2 separate regions of the Homo sapiens genome follow, and region 1 is linked to region 2. Evidence: fine-mapped expression QTL. A gene starts in region 2. The other region holds a variant in brackets. All regions are shown on one strand. Distances are between the middles of the regions.

Region 1 (5,383 bases), 54 kb after region 2:
CATTTCTCTGAGAATGTACTCGCCTACTCTCCAAGACGACTATTTCACGCTTTTTCCTCTCACCTCAAACCACCAACATTTCTCTTTTCCTTTCCAGTTTTTTTATTTGACCGAGAATAAAAGAAATATAAAGATCCCCTACCCACCAAATCTGCCCACCTTCCTGCACCATGCCTGTTTCTCTGCCTTCCCTTTTTCCTACCGTTTCAGGGGAGGATGTATCCAAACCAGCCTGTGCACTGGACCTTGTCTTCTTTTAGTCATTATGAAGAAGCCAACCTGTCCAGTATGCACCAGGCTTAGTTTTAAGTACCTTATAAATTAACTAATGAAATCCTTACAACAGCCTTGTGAGGTAGGAATAATATCAGTTTTACAGACGAGGAGGTTGAGGCACAGCAAAATTCAGCAACGTGTGCAAAAATCACACAGCCGTAATAAATTTGTGTGGCTTCAGAGTCTATGCATGCAGCCACTGTATAATACCATGTCTCCCAGGATATTCTCCCGCAGCTGCTTCTGTCTTTCCTGCCTCATTGATTGCCCCTTTCGATGAGATCTGACCCATTAACTTACAAGCAGGTTCTATTTTCTATATTCTATTTTAAGACCCTACCCTTGACCCTGTGTCTCTCTCCACCTGCCCCCTATTTTCTCTGTTCTCCTTTTAGCCAAATTTCTGGTAAGAATTTTTTGTTTGTTTGTTGTGTCTTCTTTTCTAATCTTTTTTTGAACCACTCCAACCTGGCCTTTGTCTATATCATTCCTCCAAAACAACTTTTGTCAAGGTCCCCCGTGCCCTCCCAATGTCCAAGCCAGAGGGACACCCTCAGTCTCTTACTCGGGCCCTTGGAGACGCTTTCTTCATTTGCCTTCCCTGACACCACACACTTCTTGGATTTTCTCCCACCCTGGTGGTTACTCCTGTTTCCTGTGTGGATCTTCCTCTGCTGGTCACCCTCTAAGTGGTGGCTTTGCCCGGGAATGTGGTCTGGACCATTTCCCTTTCTGTCTATATTCACCTTCTTGATAATCTCAGCCAGTCTCAAGGCTTTGAATATTATTAATAAATTGACAATTCCCAAAATTTATCTCTAGCTTTGAAACTTCCCTAGACTTCCAACATTCCCTTGGATGCCATAGGCCATCACACAGTTACTGTATCTCAAATGCAAATTCTTGTTTTGACTCCTTATCTTTTAGATCCCGTTTTCAGTCATGTGGGATCTTCCTCCTGCATCTCACATTGTACTTATCAGCAGGGTTCTACCTTGAAATTACATCCCCGATATGACTACCTCTCTCCTCTTTCCAGATTGTACCCTAGTCCAAAGCACCATAATCTATTCCTGGTTTTTAAGTGGACTCCTTGTCAGCCTTCTTTTTTCATCTCTTGCTTTGATATAGCCTGTTCTCCACCCTGCTGCTAGAGTCATTCTTTAAAAATATAAGTCAGTACTACCTGTTCCCCAAAAACCTATTGAAATAAATAAAAGACTTAAAAAAAAAAAAAGTCAGATCTGGCCCCTGCCTACTTCTTCCTACCTCATTTCCTGTATTTGCCCTGTGCCTCCCAGCCCAGGCTTCTTTGCCATTGTTTGAACACAGCGAGGCCACACCTGCCTCAAGGATTAGGTCCTTGCCATTTCCTCCACTGGGAATGCTCTTCCTGTAGATGTTGACTTAAATTAAACAAAAGAATGCATTATTTTGGTGTGGCCTCTGTTCAAACTTTACCTTGTCAGAAAAGCTTTCTTTAATCACCCTTTCTAAAATAGCAGTGCCTGGCGTTTTCTATCTTCTTGCCAGTTTTAATGAGAGTGTAGAGTCACCTGCCTATTGGTGTATCTGTTTGTTTGCTGTGAGTCTCCCTGGGTGGCACATGGGCTCCACGAAGGCAGAGACGTTATTGCTTTTATCCCTAGTGTCTGCAACGGCACCCGTTAGGGGGTTGATACATATTTGTTGAATTTTTAGAATAGTGACAGACATTAATCCTACAAAGTTAAAGGACATATAAGAATAAAAAAAGATTAAAGGTGATTTTTTTTAAAAGTTAAAAAGCCTCTGAATGATAGAGGAAAGGTAGTATGGGTGGAGAAAGTTGTGTAGAAGCAGAAAAGGAGAGTCTCACA[A/G]TTCTTGGGTGGCTCCAGTTCTTCTTCTTCCCTTCTTTTCTCCACCATAGGAGGAGAATTACCTGTTGCAGTAACTGCTGTGCCGAGAGTCAAGGGGAGAGAGCAAAGGGAAGGCCTTCTGTGAACTTTGTGGGCACTTACCAGGGGCTTCAGAGGTGCATCCATGGTGAGGATGGGGCCTTGAAGTATTACTAGGAAATTAACATTGGTGAAACAAAATGAAATTGGGAATCATATGTTCCTTAAACCCACTCCACTTGGAGCATTGAAAATGACAGCTTGTGGTGAAGTGCCATGGCTCACGCCTATAATACTAGCATTGTGGGAGGCCGAGGGAGGAGGATGGCTTGAGTCCAGGAGTCTGAGACTGTGGTGAACCATGATCACGCCACTGCACTCCAGCCTGGGTGACAGAGCAAGACTCCGTCTCAAAAATAAATAAATAAATAAATAAAAAATAAAAAAAAAAAAATCAAGAAAACGACGAATTGTGAATGTTAACTCTTACAATGAAGATAATGGTAATTTTTAATGTGCTGCCTTTCTGACCACTCCTGGTGAATATCCCACTTCCCAATTCCTTTAGAGTTGGATTGAGAATGTTGATGCAATTATTTCCAGTTTCTTGGATTACTCTTCCTTAGAGAGAACAAGATCCAAGAGTGAATTTATGTGCTCCTCACTTACCATTTTTGTGAGTTCTACTCACTGATGTGGATGAATAGAAAAAGCTGTGCCAAAATAATGAATTGTCTCCTTTAACATTATGAGCTATAAAGGGATGGGAACAGCTTCTTTTAAGTTCTGTTAGTATTTCACAGTGTGCTAACTGATAAACTTTTAATGATCTCCAGAAAACAGCAAGGGGATGTTTACTACCCTTGTAAATATAAATAACTTTAATAACAAATCATATTACTTGAACTTTGACTCCCAGTAAACATAATACCTGATACTTATCTGACATAACTATGGTTTTGAAAGTTTAAACTCTAGGACATATGGTGGGTGTATAATCCTGCAAAGTTCACATTGTCTGACTTTGGCTATAAAGATGTGTTTCAAAAGGCCAAACAATTATTTTGTAGTGTTTGGATCATTTCCAAGGATTCATTTGTTTCAGCATAAACTCATTATATGTTTATGCTTCCCTTTGATTTCTTTTTGCCTAGAGGGACAAGAAGATGAGGATGAAGAGGATGAAGAAGATGAAGATGAAGAAGAGGAAGATGAGGAAGAAGATGAGGAAGATAAAGATGCAGACTCGCTGGATGAGGGCTTGGATGGTGACACTGAGCTGCCAGGTTTTACCCTCCCTGGTATCACATCCCAGGAACCAGGCTTAGAGGAGGGAAACATGGACCTGTTGGAGGGAGCTACCTACCAGGTGCCAGATGCCCTCGAGTGGGAACAGCAGAATCAAGGCCTGGGTAAGAGTCATGTGTATTTCCCTTTTCCTCCCTTCTCCCCTCCTTTTATATTTCTCAGATGACAGCCTTCTTTCATTGCCATCTATTGTAAAGAAAAATGGATTTTCTTTGTTTATGGGTGGTTTCTACATTTATGGGTGGTTAAGAATATAAGTATAAACTCACCGAAGAAATAACTGATAATTAAAAATTAAAAATGATCACTTATTTCTTCGATGAGTTTATATTTATGCCCTTAAGTAGCCAGGCTCCAAACAGTCTCCAGCTGCCTATTATGAGTACAGTTGCCTGATGTTTGGAAGAAATTCAGTTTTTCCTTCCCAGTTGGGAGACAGTTGTAGGCTTTAGGAGGACATCCGCACAGGGAGGAGATACGTGTAACCAGGATGTTGGACAAGCAGCACCATGGGACAGAGTCGAAGAACAAATGCATTTTTTGTTCCGCTCTGTCCTTTGGGAATCTATTACCTAGGGGAAGTTCTTCCCCTGCTTGTGGGTGAGCAGTTGGGCAGTCCCATGATTTTTCTGTTCAGACTTGTGGCTGCATTACCTTGTCAAACACGATTTCATTTCAGCAGCTAGGGTGGCCAGACCACTCCATGCTCACTCTCTCTTATTCATGGCCCGTGCTTGTGGTGAGAGACTTGGAGGATGCAGGCCGCTCCTCAGCTCAGCACTTCCTTCCACATCGACAGGGAAGCTCCCCAGTCTGTCCCTCTCCTCTTGTCAGGGGAGACGCTATTAAGCTCTCAGTGACTCCTTGAGGCCCTATTCCCTTGACCTGAGGTGAATTAATCTCTTCTCCAAGGAAACTCTTCTCTAAAATGCTCCTAGTCTTTAACAGCTAGGCCCATTGATTCCTTCAGTGTGGCAGATGTTAGGGTTAAGAGTCAGAAAAACTGGTACAAATACTAGTTTTGGGGATATGTCATTGAAAACTTGTAAGTTGGTCTGGGCCTTTGCTCTGGATGTAATTCTGGGAGTTGCACTCTATAGATTGGCATACAGGTTGTAGTTGACATGTAGCTGGGATTTCCTGTGTAATATGCTATAGGAAGGAGAGAAGATAGTAAGGGATGGGCTTCCAGTGGACAGACAAGATTTCTTGAATTACTTTCTGGCCAAATTCAGCATGCATTGGGCAATGATTACTTTAAAAACATGTCACATGAAACTGGTAAAAACTTATAAGGGTATCAAAACATTATAATATCAAAATACTATAAAACAAACACAAAATAAGATTATCTCTGGTCTGTGAACAAGTGAATGAATATTTAGTCTGAAATGCTTCTGTTCTACATGAACAGGTTTGAAATGAATGAAATAAGATACAAAATACAAAGATAATTTATACCGAACAGGTTAAAAACAGACACAAATCTACACGTAAAGTGACTCCTCGGGTTGTGCACAGCTTTATACTATGGAGGTATCATGTACAGTTAAACAGCCTTTCAGTATGGATGGGATGATATTCGGATGCTCTAGTACTTTACCGGAGAGAGGAGCGAGGGAGACAGGGTTGCCTTAGCACAGAATTAGGAACATCATATGGCATCTACCCTGGATTGTGATCAAAGAAATGAAGTCTCACCACTTATGAAGTGGACTTACCATCTTTGAGTAATTATAAGTAATTAGAGGGTCTTAGAAAACTATAAGGAGGCTCTGAATCAAGGCTAAAATGATCATTTGGGCTGTGGTATTATCATGCTCCTCAATGCAAATTTACCACTGAATAGGAGTCAAGTTTTTAAGGAATCAGCTTTACTGAGGTATGTATTATACACAATTGCACCCACTGAAAGCTTATGA
Region 2 (5,383 bases):
GATCCTGCTGCCTCAGCCCCCCTAATAGCTGGGATTACAGGCACGCACCACCATGTCTGGCTAATTTTTGTATTTTTAGTAGAGACAGGGTTTTGCAATGTTGGCCAGGTTGGTCTCGAACTCCTGACCTCAGGTGATCCACCCGCCTCAGCCTACCAAAGTGCTGATATTACAGACATGACCCACCTGGCCTTTTAAAATTTTGTTTTTTAAATAGAAAAAGGCTTATAGAATAAGGAAATAAAGAAATGAAATATTTTTGAACAGCTGTACAATATGTTTGTGTTTTAAGCTGTGTTATTACAAAAGAGTCAAAAGTTACCCAGCCGTGGTGGCATGTGCCCGTAGTCCCAACTACTGGGGAGGCTGAGGCAGGAGGATTGCTTGAGGTTAGGAGGTCCAGGCTGCAGTGAACTGTGATTGTACCACTGGACTCCAGCCTGGGTGACAGAGTGAGACCCTGTCTCAAAGAAAAAAAGAGTCAAAAGTTAAAAAAAATTTATAAAGTAAAAAATTCAGGTAAGCTATGGTTAATTTATTATTGAAGAAAAAATGTTTATGTCTACAGTACAGCCTAAGTGTACATTGTTTACACTACAGTAGTAGTGTAGCATACAGTTATAGCCTACATAACTACAGTAGTGTAGTTATGTACAATAGTATACAGTTATGTCAGTAGTGTAAGGTTACGTACATTACAGTAGTGTACAGTTATGTCCTAGGTCTTCATATTCTCACTCATCATTCGTTGACTCACCCAGAGCAACTTCCAGTCCTATAAGCTCCATTTATGGTAAGTGCTCTATACAGATGCACCATTTTTTATCTTTTATACTGTATTTTTACTGTATTGTTTCAATGTTTAGATATAGAAATACCATTGTGTTACAATTGCCTACAGTACTGAGTACAGTAACATGCTGTACAGGCTTGTAGCCTAGGAGCAATAGGCTATACCATATAGCCTTGGTACGTAGTAGGCTATGCCATCTAGGTTTGTGTAAGTATACTATTATGCTCGCATAACAACAAAATTGCCTAAGGATACATTTCTTAGAATGTATTCCCCTAATTAATCAATGCATGATTATACATAGATAATAATTTCTAAAGGGAGGGGGAATGGGTAACAGTGCATACCTGCTGGGCACCGTGGCACATGTCTATAATTCAAACACTTCGGTAGACCGAGGCAGGAGGATCGCTTGAGTCCAGGAGTTTGAAACTAGCCAGGGCAAGATAGGAAGACCCCATCTTTACCAATAATAATAATAATAATAATAATAATAATAATAATAATAATAATAAAAAATTAGCCAGTCGTGGTGCCGCATGCCTGTGGTCCCAGCTACTTAGGAGGCTGAGGTGGGTGATGGCTTGAGGTCCCAGGAGGAGGTCGAGGCTGCAGTGAGCCATGATGGCGCCACTGCACTCCAGCCTGGGGGAAAGAGTGAGATCCTGTCTCAAAAACAAACAAACAAACAAACAGAAACCAGTACATACCTGTGCATTGTGTTAGGTGTGGGGGTCAAAGGTGAGCCAGCTTTTGCTCTGACTTCAAGGTGTTTATAATTAACTACAAAAGGGGACTAAGGTATTATGAAGAAGGGAGCTAATAAGCACAATAAGGGACAAATGTGAAGAGTGCTCTGCAAATGTAAAATGCTGCGTTGTGGAGGTTGTTCCAAAACGGGCCTTTAGATTCCGACACCTCTTTCCACACCATTAGAAGTAACAGAAAAAGAAAACAGTCCTTGAGAGGCTCAAGAATGGAGGACACAAATTCCCGGTGGCCACGCGAGCCGGATGACCTTGGAGAAGTTACACAGCCCTTAGCCTTAACCTCCTACCCTGGTAAATGAGAACTACAATATCTACCCTTCTATCGTGCAGATTAAGCAGGTAAAGTAATGGGCAAAGCATCTACTCTTGTGCCTGGCAGGAGTAAGGGCTCAATAAACCTTACTTGTGACTAGCACTAGTTTGCAACTTCTCCGACGGACTGAGAAGGGACATTCTGTGTAGAGTTACTTTAAGGGTCCTACTTAAGGGCACCGCCAAGCCGTCCATAGTTTCCACAAGGAACACTGCAGTCTCAGATTTGCGCTCCTTGCCTGAACCAAAGACAGCAAAATTGAGGTTTTTCTCGTGTAAACGGTGCCCTGGTCTCTTCCGCGTAGATAGGGAGGCGAGCTGCCGCAGAAGCTCCCGCTTAAAGAGGGGAAGCGGAGCACGGGATCTCCGAGGGGTCCCAGGTGCCGGGACTCCAGCAGAAGCCGCCCCCGCGGGAGAGCGGAGGCGGGGAAGTGGGCGCAGGGGGGCGTGGGCGACGGCGTCGGCTGTCAGTGCCAGCAGAGCCAGGGCGGGCACACCTACTCACCGCCCAATCCCCGGCCGTAGCCGCGGCCTTATGAATAAGCAACAAAGCGAAGCGCCCTCCCCCTAGCGTCCCAGACAGCGGAGGGAGTCGCCGCCGCTACCGCCGCCGCCGCCGCAGGGCCCGCCGCTGGGATGCCGAGCGCCCGCGCCGCCGCTGCCTCTGTCCTCCGCGCGCTGCTCAGCTGAAGGCGCACAGGTGAGGACGGGCCCGGCTCCGGCCACTTGGGCGGCCGCGGCTGCAGACGTGGCGCCGGGGCAGGGACGGAACCGGAGCCTCAGTGGCGTGGGGTCGCTCCGCGAGCGTAACAGTCCCGGGAGCGTTGCAGCCCTGGGTGCGCCAGGCGTGCGCCCCGATCCTCCTCCGGAGCGCGGTGCCCAGGTGTGGGGTGCGCGGGGGCAGCTCTGGGCGCGCTGGGCGCGGCGCGCAGGCCTCGGAGGACTCACCGCACTCCTAGCTCCAGCCCAGCCTCCCAGCTCCGCACCAGCGAGCCGGCCTTTGTGCTGGCGGAGCTTGCAGGGCTGGCTGCTTTTGTGTGGGCTTTTCTTTCTCTTTCTCCCTCCGCTCGCAATCCCACAGCAGTGAGAGAGAAGTTCCCGAAAACAACGGTTTACTCCTTTCAAACCGTCGATCGCAGTGTCCCCAATGCCACTCAGAGCCTAACAATCGAGGAGCGAATCGTTGCTGCGGTCACCACCGAAATATGTCCTGCCACTTTGCAGAAAACAAACAGTTGAGTGTTTAGCGCAGAGATGTCGAGCCTCCTTGCTCAGCCCCTGACTCGTCCCCCAGGACGCGGCTGGAGGACGCTCCTTGGAAAGGTCACTTAATTAGAAAGAGGGCCTGCGGGTTAGACCTGGGGGAGGCGAGGCTCTGCTTGAGACTCCGGAATAGTTGGGAGGTGCTGCCGGAGGTGCCCAAATGTCTCATGTGCCTCGTGGTCACTGACAGAATCTGACTTGTGTAGATTCCAAACATGTAGAACCTTGGCTGGCGAGGAGGCAAGCAGGAGTGAACAAAACAGGACCCTTAAGAGTTTGGGTTCTCAAAGATGAGATGATCCCGAGGATCCGCCTAGCACTTGGCATCCAATTTCAGTGCAGAACTGATGTGGAAGAGAGGAGAGATGGCTGCTTTAAAGTGTCTGCCTTCTTTCTTTGGAAGTTTTAGTTTGAAACTTGAGGGGGAGTGGGGAGTGGTTCACAAAACCATCCCTAGGGTTCTGAAGGATCTCTTCTCCAAAGGGCAAAAATTCTTGAGTGGTCAGAATTCACATGCCTTCTCTTTATTTTGGTGTATTTCCTTGATCACAAGTGATGCTGTTGGGCTCCAGGGAGTCTCCTTTTAGCCAAGCATCTACAGTCATTGACTGACTTCGGCACGTATGCCAGTAGAACCCCACAGTAGCATCTATTGAAACACACAACCGGCTAAGGTTTCACAGTATCAGAACATTGCTTCTTTTACACACAGAGGTTTAAAGGTACTCTGACTTGCTCTTATGAATAAAGTGGTTTTTTTTTTGTATTTGTCACAATAATGAACCGAGCACTTGTGCAGCAGACAGATTTGATATTAGTTGAGTTTATTCATAGAAACTCCCAAGGCTCACCAAGTCTAAGGTAGCTACAGCAACGGAGCCAATTAGAGAGATGTGAATTTGTCTTTGTTTTCATGGGAGGCTTCTTACTACATATTCCGGAGTTTCCTGCCAGACCTTTACAATATTATAATTTGGTATTACGGAAATGGTTCGATGCTAAATATAAGTGTAGAATCAAAATGAGGAAAACGGGTTTATCTGCTGTGGAAAATGTCCACTCCCCACCTAAAGGTGTCCTTTGCCCTTTATTCTGTAGATGTTTGTCTGAAAAGTGGTGTATGGAATTGTATTTTTGTTAATTGAACTTAAAAAACTTCTCACATAGGGAAGCTGTCTATGCAGAGGGAAACTGCTTTTAATTTTTGTAAAATGAAAACTCATTCCCTAAGCAAGATGTGAGGTCAATCTTATTTTTCCATATTGTGTTTACTTGGTGATTATAAGAGAAGTATCTGAAGCTAGTTTCAGCTTCCCTTTAAATGTCAGCTACTTAGAGATCTAGCCAAGCAAATGGCTACATTTGTGTACCACAAAAACCAGAAATGATATGTCCAATTGGGTCACTGAAATAAACTGTCTGATGGATGGAGAAGAGTTTGTTGATCAAGATTCATCAGGATAGGATTCTGCAGACAGCAGAACCCTCTCAGGTCACATTGTCTACATGATAAAGCTGAAAGGAGAAGCTCCATGAAAGTACCTTGGGGAAAAAAATGCTACTCCATTTGTGGCTGATGTTACAGATGCTCCAAATTGCTCACATTTCTGTATTTGACAGGAATGCATGTCAGTAGCATGCTAGTATGTCTTCTATTGCATGATAATTTACTTTTGTTTCAAACTGCTTTTATGTCTATTATCACTTTTGTGTGTGTTCTCCACCCTTTGAAAAAATATAACCAGCATTATTATTTCTACTTTGCAACAAGAAAACTTGAGTTTCAGTGATTTGCCTAAGGTAGAACTGGAACTCGAAGAAGCCTGTTTTTAAATCTTCAAGTCCATCTCCTTTTACCAGGGATGAGATGATATGCTAGGGGTGATAAGCACGGATATCTTCATTTGTCTACATCACTAATTTGTAGAGACTGAAGCTCCTGGGCTCAGTATGTAGAACTTAGGTGTGGTCTTCAGGGATGGTAAAGTACTTTTTACTGGTATTTAGTTTCCAGTAATTTAGCTATTTTGACCCCAGCCTACTTACCCTCTTCCCTGCCAGCTCTGGGGCTGCTTTCCTCCTGGGGGACCATGCTTTTCTTTGTGGTTACTTACTCCTTCTCCCTCCTTCCATTGTGATGGAACATGCTGCTGAAAGGATTGTTTGTCATTCAGCTATTTAATTTATGGTGAAGTATAGCTGCAGCCTAGATCCTAAAGCCAATATAACAGACCAGTGATGATTG

Direction of the effects. Positions count from the first base shown, and alleles are read on the strand shown. Sizes are in standard deviations (SD) of each study's normalised expression.
In carriers of allele G in region 1, the expression in breast of the gene that starts at base 2,437 in region 2 tends to be higher than with A alone (small effect, 0.37 SD a copy in GTEx).

What was found. PIP is the estimated chance that this variant, and not a neighbour inherited with it, causes the effect.
Region 1: its variant is the best candidate, but not a certain one, in a credible set for the expression of ARMH4 in breast (GTEx, PIP 0.51).

What each region holds. Positions count from the first base shown.
Region 1 is chr14:58,094,906-58,100,288 of GRCh38, reverse strand. It overlaps ARMH4 (armadillo like helical domain containing 4), which reads left to right. Exons shown (of 8, transcript NM_001001872.4): 5 at 3,308-3,565. Among named protein-coding and RNA genes, the nearest start is that of ARMH4, 55 kb to the left of the region's middle. The variant A/G (reference allele first, on the strand shown) is at 2,136.
Region 2 is chr14:58,149,267-58,154,649 of GRCh38, reverse strand. It overlaps ARMH4 (armadillo like helical domain containing 4), which reads left to right and starts at 2,437. Exons shown (of 8, transcript NM_001001872.4): 1 at 2,437-2,575. RefSeq lists silencers at 2,243-2,312, 2,205-2,499, 2,393-2,612, 2,713-2,902.